Linked DNA regions of Homo sapiens. The protein of the gene in region 1 interacts with the protein of each later gene in a pairwise test. Each region holds a gene or a part of one and is shown on either strand. Other genes may lie near its edges.

Region 1 (3,745 bases):
ATATCATCATTTTATACATCAAGAAAGAAAAGAAACTAGCGAACAAACGGGGCATAATGCCGCCTGGCTCCGCTTCCCCCTCCCCTCTCCCCCCGTCCTTAGGAGACACCTCTGGAGTTCAGAAATGCTAGGAGAGCAAGCTCTTCATTCTTAGAATCCAGGAAGGGCCGGGCTTTTGCAGCTCTCCTCTGCCAGGAAGCCGCTGGGGGGCGCAAGACGCCAGCTTCTCACCTTGGCAGAAGTGCCTGCCTGCAAGCGCAGAATGGAAACTTCCCCATAACAAATTCAGAAGTACCTTGTACATTCACCACCCACCTGAAGAAAGCCTGAATGAAAGGAACAAAGCCACGGCGTTGTTTACTTTCCCATTATCGCCCCAGTCTTGCGGCAGGGCCCGGGTTTCCATCCAATCCACCCGGCCCGCCACTGTCCTGGCCAGTCTCCAAGGCTTCACCCAAAAAAAGGAAGCAATGAGGTGTCCCCCAGCGCGCCTTTTCACGTAGCACAGAAGGTGCTCAGTGGGTGAATCCTCTGAAAGTGCCAGCGTGTATGGTCAAACGGCAGCAACCTCTAGCCTATTAAACTCTCCCAAGATCTCTTCCAGACTTATTCCATTGCCGGAAAAAAGGCTTTTTACATATGCGCATTTAAGTAATTAAGATATTTCAACATGGTATAAGACGTAGGGGCTCTTACTCCATCAGTACTGGATGGGAATTTCCTTTTGCCCTCTACTCCCCAGGGTAACTGCAGTCCCACCTGAATGCGTTTTGCAGCCCTTACTCGGGTTCTATTTATGCGCAGCTTGGACAGGGCTCACTGGGCCCGGCCGGGCAGCTCCGTGGCCGTCCCTCTCCACCGCCCTTCCCCCGCGCCAGGCCAATGCAAGGGTGTGTGTGTTGGGGGGAGGGGAGGACAAAAGGGGTTCAGGATCTTTTTAACCTGCCTGCAGATGGCGCCCCGGGAAAGATTCCGAGCTGCATTACCTAAGCTCCAGGGGCTGCAGCCGCGGGGTCCCGGCCACAGGGCGTCCAGCCGCGAAGACTGCACAGCAGCTCTCCGTCCTTCCCAACTCGCGCGGCTGTTCGGCACCCGTGCGAGGAACGGATGGAAGGGAATTACTTGTAGCAGGGCCAGTACTGGGGGCGTGCACTCAGGGACCACGGAGTGGCACTCAGCCTCGACCCCACGCGCCAGGCAGCCCGGCGACCCCCACGCGCGGCGGGGTCCTGCCCACCCCACCCGGCGGCAGGTGGACAGTGTTGCTATGAAGAGAAAGCCTCGATTGTCCCTACAGCAAACCGCCACACGCCAGACCTCTGCTATTGTGCGCCCTCCATAGAAATGCAAACGAGCGGCGTGCGCCGGCCGCAATCTGCTCGTCCCCGCCCGCCCCCGTCTCCCGCGCCCCGCCGCGCTCGGCCAAGGGCGGGGAGGTGGGGTGGGATCTTCCAGAGACGGCTCAATGTACACATTGAGTATGCCTGGCAGGCATCACCAGCGCGCTCGGGACGCTAGTGGTCAGCTGCAGGGGGCTGTGCCCACTGCCTTTTGCAAGCCTCTAACTGGCGCTACCTGTTTTTACCTTAATTTCTGGCTCCAATGCAACAGTCTCATAGACTTCAAATTAAAGAAAAGAAACAAATAGAAAGGTAGCAATACAAAATGCAAAAAAAAATCCCTTTGCTTCTATAAAGGTGCTTTTCGCAAATTGCAGCATCATATAAGCAAACAAGGTTTTTGTGGGTTGGGTTTTTTCTTTTTTTTTTTTTTTTACTTTTTCCTTTTAAGGACTTCAAAAAAAAAAAAAAGCCAGGCGAGATGAAATCTGCAGGCTCCAGTCTGCCTGGTAACACCCCAACAAAAGCGGCAGATTTGAGGCATTGTCATCCCCCGCACCCCTCCCCACGTGGCCTTCTGGCACGAGCCGCTGGCTCGCCGCCTCATTTACATCAGAAAGCGGGTGCCGGCCAATAGGCGCGCAGCCTCGCGCCAGCTGGCGGCGCCGCACCCACCAGCCTATATAAGGGCGCGCAGCGTAGTAGGGGCGCACTCGCTGGTGGTGGGCGCGCCGTGCTGAGCTCTGGCTGTCAGTGTGTTCGCCCGCGTCCCCTCCGCGCTCTCCGCTTGTGGATAACTAGCTGCTGGTTGATCGCACTATGACTCTGGAAGAAGTCCGCGGCCAGGACACAGTTCCGGAAAGCACAGCCAGGTGGGTTTCAGGGCGCTGAGAAAGCCGCTGGTCGGTCGGCGACCGTCAGGGTTTTCCAGGGTGGGAATCCGCGGGGTAGGAGGGGAGCGCGGGGGTCCGGGCGCCAGATCCCGGTTGGAGAGCCGGGGTGCAGGCGCTGAGCCGGGATTGGAGTGTGGTTGGAGTTGGGGAGCCAAGGGTGTGTGCCGGTGGCCGGGGCTGGGGTCTCCGCCGCGCCCTCCGGCCGGCTCCCGCTCACTGCGCTGGCTCCTCCGCAGGATGCAGGGTGCCGGGAAAGCGCTGCATGAGTTGCTGCTGTCGGCGCAGCGTCAGGGCTGCCTCACTGCCGGCGTCTACGAGTCAGCCAAAGTCTTGAACGTGTAAGTGTAGACGCGGCCCAGGCTGGGAGACAGGGGCGGGGGTGAATGGCGAGGAGACTGGCGGATGGGAGGGGTGGCGGCGGGAGAACTCGGCTAGCCGGTTCTGACCTAGGTCCCCGCCTTGCCCTCGCAGGGACCCCGACAATGTGACCTTCTGTGTGCTGGCTGCGGGTGAGGAGGACGAGGGCGACATCGCGCTGCAGATCCATTTTACGCTGATCCAGGCTTTCTGCTGCGAGAACGACATCGACATAGTGCGCGTGGGCGATGTGCAGCGGCTGGCGGCTATCGTGGGCGCCGGCGAGGAGGCGGGTGCGCCGGGCGACCTGCACTGCATCCTCATTTCGGTGAGTACAGTCCCGTCCTGTCCCCGCCCCAGTGTCGTTCCCGCCTCGGCCCGCGGCCAGCCAGGCTGACCCTGCTCTCTCTCCGCAGAACCCCAACGAGGACGCCTGGAAGGATCCCGCCTTGGAGAAGCTCAGCCTGTTTTGCGAGGAGAGCCGCAGCGTTAACGACTGGGTGCCCAGCATCACCCTCCCCGAGTGACAGCCCGGCGGGGACCTTGGTCTGATCGACGTGGTGACGCCCCGGGGCGCCTAGAGCGCGGCTGGCTCTGTGGAGGGGCCCTCCGAGGGTGCCCGAGTGCGGCGTGGAGACTGGCAGGCGGGGGGGGCGCCTGGAGAGCGAGGAGGCGCGGCCTCCCGAGGAGGGGCCCGGTGGCGGCAGGGCCAGGCTGGTCCGAGCTGAGGACTCTGCAAGTGTCTGGAGCGGCTGCTCGCCCAGGAAGGCCTAGGCTAGGACGTTGGCCTCAGGGCCAGGAAGGACAGACTGGCCGGGCAGGCGTGACTCAGCAGCCTGCGCTCGGCAGGAAGGAGCGGCGCCCTGGACTTGGTACAGTTGCAGGAGCGTGAAGGACTTAGCCGACTGCGCTGCTTTTTCAAAACGGATCCGGGCAATGCTTCGTTTTCTAAAGGATGCTGCTGTTGAAGCTTTGAATTTTACAATAAACTTTTTGAAACAAACTTATGCTCTTTATTGAGGGTAGGGGATCTTTGTGTCGGGGGAGGTGGCGTGCAGGGTTTCAGAGGATTGCTGGAACTCCGTGGAACTGATGGCACCTGTTCCGTCTTCCTGTCGGGCAAGAATGACAGGCTCCTCCCCTCTGGCAGAGGGA
Region 2 (3,745 bases), on another chromosome or scaffold:
GCCACGCCCACCTGCTCATTCCATGCTACGGTAAAATGCTGAGAAAATGCCCAGAGCGGGCGCGACCATCTGAGCTCCCACCTGAAAACCTGCATCCGAGGCAGGGGCTCAGGGCCCCTGTGCTTTTCTTTATGGGGAGGGTCCCAGATACGAGGGGAACACAGCAGCCAGAGTGGGGCTTGGGTCCTGACCTCCTGGGCTCCAACCCAGCCCCTCCACTTTGAGACACACGGTCCAGGCAAGTGGACCCCAGGGCAGGGGCAGACCCACAGGGACATGGGGACTCAAGTCAAGGAAACGGACCATGGCCGGCCAGCGTGGCCGCGGCGCCCAGATGCTGACAGAGGCTGGCAGAAGTCTATAGGGAAAGCCTCGCCAGCCTCTGTCAGGTGACGAAGAAAACACGGGGGTTAGTGGGGGTGGGTAGGTGCACCAACCTTCTGGATGTCCGTGATGTCCACTAGCTTGATGACTTTGTTCCTCTTTGAGGACCCAGATTTGGAGCTTTCGAAGCACAAGTAACTGGAAGGGGAACGGACAGAGGCGTCGCCTGGCTCTTGAACCAGAGCACGCTCCCACCAGGTGGGGGTCTCCCGGGGCTGCCTCTCAGCCCCCAGTGGGATGGACAGTGGTGCTCCCTTCCCAGCAGACACAGAACCGGTGAAACACTCACGGCCACTGCTCTATATGAGACACTCACGGCCACTGCTCTGTGTGAAACACTCACAGCCACTGCTCTGAGACACTCACGGCCACTGCTCTGAGTGAGACACGGCCACTGCTCTGAGACACTCACGGCCACTGCTCTGAGTGAGACACTCACGGCCACTGCTCTGCATAAGACATTCACAGCCACTGCTCTGAGTGAGACACTCACGGCCACTGCTCTGCATGAGGCACTCAGGGCAACAAGGACTCAGGGCCTCAGCAATAGCAGGTCCCCACACGGTCCCCTCCTTGGGAGACTCTGCCCCTCGTCTCCATGAACTGCTTGGGCCCCAGAGAAGACAGCATCCCCGCCAGCCTGAGGGATGGCAGCAGTACAGCCCAGGCCACGTCCGGCTTGGAGACAACACCTTTTCCCTGGGAGCCCAGACAGCCGGCAAGAGCAGAGCATGGGAGAGGCCATGGCCACCACTCAGGAAAACCTGCACTGGGCCAGCCACGCCATCCCAGGGCCTAGGCAGCCTCCTGCGCCCCCTCCCCTGCAGCCACACAGGGCCCCACGGCTGCACTCACTTCTCCGTGACGTAGAGCACCCCGTTCCTGATGTAGTCCGTGGGCATCTTCCGGTCCCTGTTGATGAGGCAGCAGCGCCAGCCATTCTCGCACACTAATGGGAGAAGGCCCGCCTGTCACACTTTCCACTGGAAGTACCCAGCCTCTGACCTGACGCTGGGACCCAGGAGCCTGACTCTCAGATCCTGACATCCGCCCACCGCGCTCACGTCACACCCACAGTGAGAGGAAGGCGCGCCGGCAAGAGTGAGGTGGCCCCAGAGGGTGGAAAACAGATGTTTCCTCTTCAACAGGCACTGGCAGGGTTTTTAAAGTAAAAGCACCCAGGCAGAGCAGGGAGCAACAGAAGTCACAGTGTGGCCGGGACACCACCTCCAAGACCGGCAGGGTCAGGGCGCTGGGACACCACCTCCACCAAGACCGGCAGGGCCAGGGCTCAGCAGAGGACGAAGCTCCGTTCTCCGCAGCTGCCTCTGCAGCCGCTCATCACACACCTCGAGCTGCCCGGTTTAGTTTAACAGGCCCTCCCTTTGGGAAAGCTGACCTGTCCCCAGGATCCTGAGTCACCTGTCCCCTGGTGGCTCTTGTTTCTCCAGACACGATGGAACCAGGGGCAGACCCCCTGCCAGCGCCCTGCAGGCCCTGAGGCCTCGCCCTGGACTCTCTCCCCAGTGTGTTGCCTGCACGCCTGCTGTCAGGGGAGTGCTGCAGCGTGGGCGGCTCTCCCCACGGGCACGCCCTCCTCCCCTGTAGCCCGCAGAGTCCTCATGACCCCTGGCTCCTGCACTCCTCCTGGGGCAGTGGGATGTGAATGCCATCCTGAGGGCTCCTCTGGCCTGTCACAGGGCGACCCCGTCCTGCATCCACAGCGCCCCCCTCACGGGCCTTCAGTCTGTGTCGGCGCTCGGCCTGGCCTCAGACTCACGGCACACATACCCGCCAGCGGACGCTCGTTTTCTGTCAGATTGAAGATCTCGTGGAAATTGCCCTTCTTGGTGCTGTGGAAGCGACCGGCGTCCTCCTCTTTACCCAGGCCGGCCGGTGCGCTGGGTACGTAGCTCCGTGACGAGGTCGTCTGCAGCTGCCAACGGCAAACAGCGTCGAGGTCAGGCCCGCTGCCCACGCCTGCAGCACCCAGATGTGCTGGCCGCACACACACCTCCCCAAAAGCTGGGATCCAAATTTGGGAAGACGTTCCCGAGGTCCCTTCCGGCCCAGAGCGGCTCCTTCTTCCAGGCAGGGCCACCTCACCTCAGTGGGGAGAGCCCAGCAACCCTCCTGACTCATCTGAGCCACCCCGAAGGGAGCACCGAGGCCTGCTCATTCCCCGTGGTCCTGGCTGGGATGCTGTGCTGCACATCTGGAGGGCCTGTGACTGTGAATGAAATATGGCCCAGTGCCAGGCTGTGGCTCCAAGGGGGCCCTTCTCAAACTGCCTGGTCTCAGCGCCAGAGCCTCACTGTCAGGGATGGCAGGGGCCGGGCACCCCCATGGAGTGGTCACTCCCAGGCCTGCTGGCTCTCAGTCATCATGGCCAGTCCCCAGGTGTTGCCCTGGGCTTGGGAGGGGCTGGATGAGCCTCAGAAACCGCAGTGGTAACAGGGAAAAAAAAAACCCTCAAGTTTAAGGAGTCTATAAAATTGAAGAAACAGCCTCTAAATGAGCCGGAGGTGAACAGAGCACTGTGGGCCTGGGGATGCCCGGCTTCGTGGCCCCCCATCCCCCCATCCCCGCAGCTGGGGGCCGGGCTCACCCTGCGTGAGACTGCGGCGCTGGAGCGCTCCTTGAGCTGCGGGTCGGTGGGGAGACTCCTCCAGATGATATAGGGCGTGTCGTACTTGGCGCGCAGCCTCGGGCAGCGTTTAAAGATGAAATCAATGAGGAAGAACTTGATACCAGCATAGAGTCCTGAGGGCAGGGGACACAGCCTGCTCCATCTAGAGCTCTGCAGCTATGCCAGTCTACTCAGGGTGATGGTTCCGGCACCTCCCACCTCCCAGATTGGCACCCTCCACCCTGAGCCTGGATGTGAGAGTCCAGCTGCTCGCTCAGTCCTCACCCTGGATACCCCCAGCCTCGCTCCCCTGGGGCCCATTCGTGCTGCACAGTCTCAACCCCAGGCGAGGGCCCCACTGCCAGCGCCCCACCCACTCCCACTAAGACCCCTCAGCTCTGCTAGGACCCCCCCATCCAATGCCCCTCACTTCTCTCTCCAACTCCGCCTGGCTCAGGGCTGTTCTTGACCCACCTGAAACACTTCAGGACTGTGCCTCCTCTGCCCCAATTCCCCACACCTGACACCAAATCTGAGGTCCCTCCATGGCAATCCCTCCCCAAACCCCCTCCCACCTGCCCTTCTTCAACTGGGTGCCCCCCCACGCCCAGCCCATCCCTGCTGAGAGGCCGCCCATGACCAGCTGCTCAGACGGCTCCCAGCCACGCCCTCGCAAGTTCCCCTCCACCAGCTCCGTTTTCTCCCCGATACTGTCACCTGACACAATCATGG
Region 3 (3,745 bases), on another chromosome or scaffold:
AGAGGTATGTAAATGCTTCCTCCTCTCCCAGCACCTTTACAGATGAGGATGCTGAGCCCTAGAGGTGAAGAAAGTTGTCTAATGACAGAGTGCTTGTAAGAGGTAAAGCCAAGACTTGAAGCTCTTTCTTGCAGTTACTGGATTTCTCCTAATTTACGGGAACTAATACAGTACAGTAGCTAAGGATGCAAGTACTGAAACCAGAAATCTTGCCTCAAATGCCATTTCTGCCACTTGAGCTGTGTACTTTGGACAAATTAATCTAATCTTTCCCATTTGAAAGTCAGACATAATGTCTTCCCTAGAGGCTTGTGAGGATTAAGTGAGGCAAGTGTATGTAAATGGGCTGAGATCAGAGCTTGGCTCACAACACTCAGTAATGATCACTGCCAATTTTTTTTGGTATATAAATAAATAAATACACTATTTCCCCCATGTTTCCAATTTTTAAGACATTGTATAGTGAATTTATTGTATCTTTCTCAGATTAACAATTGCACACAGTGCTTGAAATTTAGAGGTATTTCACCTGAAAAGATGTCTAGAGATTGAAAGAAAACATGCTGGGCATATGATTTGAAAATATAAATAACATGCTATTTAAAAATAAGTTTACCCTATGTTTTCTATCTTTTCTGGCACCTAGATATACCATTTAATAAGTAATAGCAAGGATAATCATTTTTTTAAGCCCTGGAAAATCTTGATTAAAGAGGACATTTCAGTATTGCAAATAAATGCATGGTATTTGTGTAACATTGTGGAAACTAATAAACACAAATTGTATTATAGCAATTTTTTCTTGCCAATTTTATTGACAAATAATTTATATACAATAAATGACATCCATTTAAAGAGAACAGTTTATTGGCTTTTGGCAGTTGTATATACCCATGAAATTACCACCACAATGAAGACACAGCATTTCTATCATTTCTAAGATTCCTTGTGTCTCTTTCCAGTGCATCTCACTAAGTCCTAGGCAACCACTTTGCCCAAGTCTCTAGACTATCTTGGATGTGGAATGACTTTGTGTATGTTTAACTTTTGAAGAAACCTCTCAAATAGTTTTCCAAAGTGGTTATGCCATTTTACATTCCCAACAGCAGTGTATGCGAGTTCCAGTTGCTCCATATCCTTCTGCATTTGGTGTTAGCAATCTTTGAAGTTTTACCCCTTCACGTGGATGTGGAGTTATGTGTATTGTGGTTTCTATTTCCCTTATGACTACTTTTAAGCATCTATCCATGTGCTTATTGGCCATACATATATCTGATTTGGTGAAGTATTCAAATCCTTTGCCCATTTAAGAAATTGGGTGGTTTTTTCTTATTGAATTATAAGAGTTCTTTATACATTCTGTATACAAAGTCCTTTGTCACATATTGGAATGACCATTTTAAAACAAGTATTTGGTAACTAATAACGTTAGGCTAGGTACTTTAAAAAACAATATGACCACAGTACTACAGAGAGGTTGAACAAACTGCTAAACCTAGAAATCTGTCAAGGGAGGCCTATACTTTTGTGCCCAGAGCGCTGCGACCAAGAAACCCACAACATAAAACCTGATTTACTCTTAAAAGCCAACAGAGATAATATAGTTTTAAAAATAACAAAAATCCCACGATGTATCTTTGTTGTTGATGTTGCCGGCAAGCTGCCTACTATCTCCCAGGACCCCTCTTAAAATCGAAGTTAAAACCTCAACATAGGAACGCCGCGATCAGGGCTCCGTTGGGCCATTTTGGAATATCAGGCAGGTATCTTCGACGGTATTCATGTCATTTAATTATCTACATGACGTCCTTTAGGGGATAATAAACTCGTCGGGCTTTTCTGTTTGGCTTTGAACCAGTGTCATGAGGCGGAGAAGGCCCGACCAAAGGGCGGATAGGTACCGGGTTCCCGGAGAGCTGGACGCCGGCCGCGCATGCGCCCCACGGCCCGCCCTGGTTCCGCCTCCCTGGAAGAGGGGTGGCGTTGTCTCGGTAACCGGAGTAAACGGAGGCCTCCGGCAGACGCTGTGAAGAGAGGAGCCGCGGCGGTCAGTACCTTCGGTGAGTTTGGACCTCAGCAGCCGGCAGTTTCCACACCCTCCCCCTTAAATCTGTGGCTCAGAGGGCAGTGAACCCCACTTGGGCTTCTCTCAGGCTGGACCAGTGTTATAGCCTTCGTCCTCCCTGCGGTAGCTCAGCAAACTTTTGAAGCCACGAGTATTCTCAGGCTCGGAGCTAGACACTGTGTGCACGGTTCCTGCCTGCAAGACCCTGTCAGTCTGACCGGGCGGAAGCCAGCCAGGCAGCAGGAGCACAGCTTAGACCCGGCCAAGTCAGAGCAGCAGCGAGTCAGCTGGGAAGGTGCTGGGGCTCCCCGCTCCAGTGAGACACCTGCCCTGCGCTCAGCTGGGTGCGACGCTTGGCACGCTGGGCCCTCTGCACTTCGGCTTCCTCATCTCCAGAAAGAAAGGTGATAATGTGACCTCATGGAGTTATTATTAAACAGGATAATACAAGTAAAGTGCTTAGCACATGCATGACACATAGTAGGTGCACATAAATATTTGTCGGATAATAGGTAAAGACAGTCGCATACATGTGTGCTGCTCAGTGTGTCCAGTCTATCATGAGTTGCTAAGGGTGCGTACTGATGAAAATCTTTGAGAGGAGAAGGCTAAGGAGGCTAGGGAGAGAGAGAGGGTGACTGTAGCTGGGCTGCAATAAGCTACAGACCCTCTGACAAGGGACCTTTACACCAGACCGAGGAATCTGAGCTCTTATTTGATAGCAGTGATGAGCCATTAGAGGTTTTAAGCAAGAGTGACACATTAAAAGCTGTGTTTTAGAAATACAAGCGATAGTGTAGAAAATGGGTTACAGAAGGGAAGACAAAGTATGACGGTACAGTAATGGTAGAGGTGAGACACAGTGAGGACTGGAACTACAGAGGGACAGCAGGGACAGTAGGAATGAAGGGAGGGGAGGAATTCAAAAGGCTTAATCACTGGACACCAAGTAACAGGACTTGGAAATCATCTACATGAATTGGGTGAGAGGAACGGATTCAGAGTAAATACGCTGCTTTCTCATCTGTAAAATAATGACAGTAATAATAATGGATAGCAAGACTTTGTCTCAAAAATAATAATAATAGGCTGTGCGCGGTGGCTGACGCCTGTGATCCCAGCACTTTGGGAGGCGGAGGTGGGTAGATCACCTGAGGTCAGGAGTTCGAGACAAGTCTGGCCAACATGGGGAAACCCGTCTACTAAAAATACAAAAATTAGCCGGGCGAGGTGGTGTGCGCCTGTAATCGCAGCTACTCGGGAGGCTGAGGCACGAGAATCGCTTGAACCAGGGAGGTGGAGTTTGCGGTGAGCTGAGATCGCAGCACTGCACTCCAGCCTGGGTGACAGAGCCAGACTCCATCTCAATACATAAATACATAAATAAAATAATAATGGTACCTACCTCATAGGGTCGTTTTGAGAATTGTACGATAATATGTGTAGAATTTCTTAGAACTGTACTTGACACATAGTAAACATTAAAAAAGACAAGCTATTACTTTTTTTCTCCACAGCTGTATTTCACATTGCAAAGTAAAAACCGAGAGTCTGTTTTATACATCAGTCACTGTGAATCTTAAATAACCACCTCTGGCACACTGCTGGGATTGAGTGAGCTTGTGAGCATGAGGACCAGAACCTGGACTCTGGTGAATGAATCAGAGTAATGTCACCTTA

What was found.
Region 2: the proteins of GADD45G (region 1) and GRAMD4 interact in binary tests that used the Homo sapiens proteins (3 or more experiments, as listed by UniProt).
Region 3: the proteins of GADD45G (region 1) and CFAP44 interact in binary tests that used the Homo sapiens proteins (3 or more experiments, as listed by UniProt).

The regions. Positions count from the first base shown.
Region 1 is NC_000009.12:89,602,963-89,606,707, forward strand, and holds GADD45G (growth arrest and DNA damage-inducible protein GADD45 gamma), read left to right. Parts: upstream 1-2,049; 5' UTR 2,050-2,159; coding exon 2,160-2,212; intron 2,213-2,469; coding exon 2,470-2,571; intron 2,572-2,704; coding exon 2,705-2,918; intron 2,919-3,006; coding exon 3,007-3,117; 3' UTR 3,118-3,593; downstream 3,594-3,745. UniProt on the Homo sapiens protein: Involved in the regulation of growth and apoptosis. Mediates activation of stress-responsive MTK1/MEKK4 MAPKKK.
Region 2 is NC_000022.11:46,672,245-46,675,989, reverse strand, and holds part of GRAMD4 (GRAM domain-containing protein 4), read right to left. Parts: intron 3,148-3,745; coding exon 2,993-3,147; intron 2,615-2,992; coding exon of another isoform or gene 2,492-2,614; exon of another isoform or gene 2,344-2,491; intron 2,321-2,343; coding exon 2,176-2,320; intron 1,334-2,175; coding exon 1,240-1,333; intron 523-1,239; coding exon 438-522; intron 1-437. UniProt on the Homo sapiens protein: Plays a role as a mediator of E2F1-induced apoptosis in the absence of p53/TP53. Plays a role as a mediator of E2F1-induced apoptosis in the absence of p53/TP53. Inhibits TLR9 response to nucelic acids and regulates TLR9-mediated innate immune response.
Region 3 is NC_000003.12:113,439,768-113,443,512, reverse strand, and holds the start of CFAP44 (cilia- and flagella-associated protein 44), read left to right. Parts: upstream 1-2,019; 5' UTR 2,020-2,060; intron 2,061-3,745.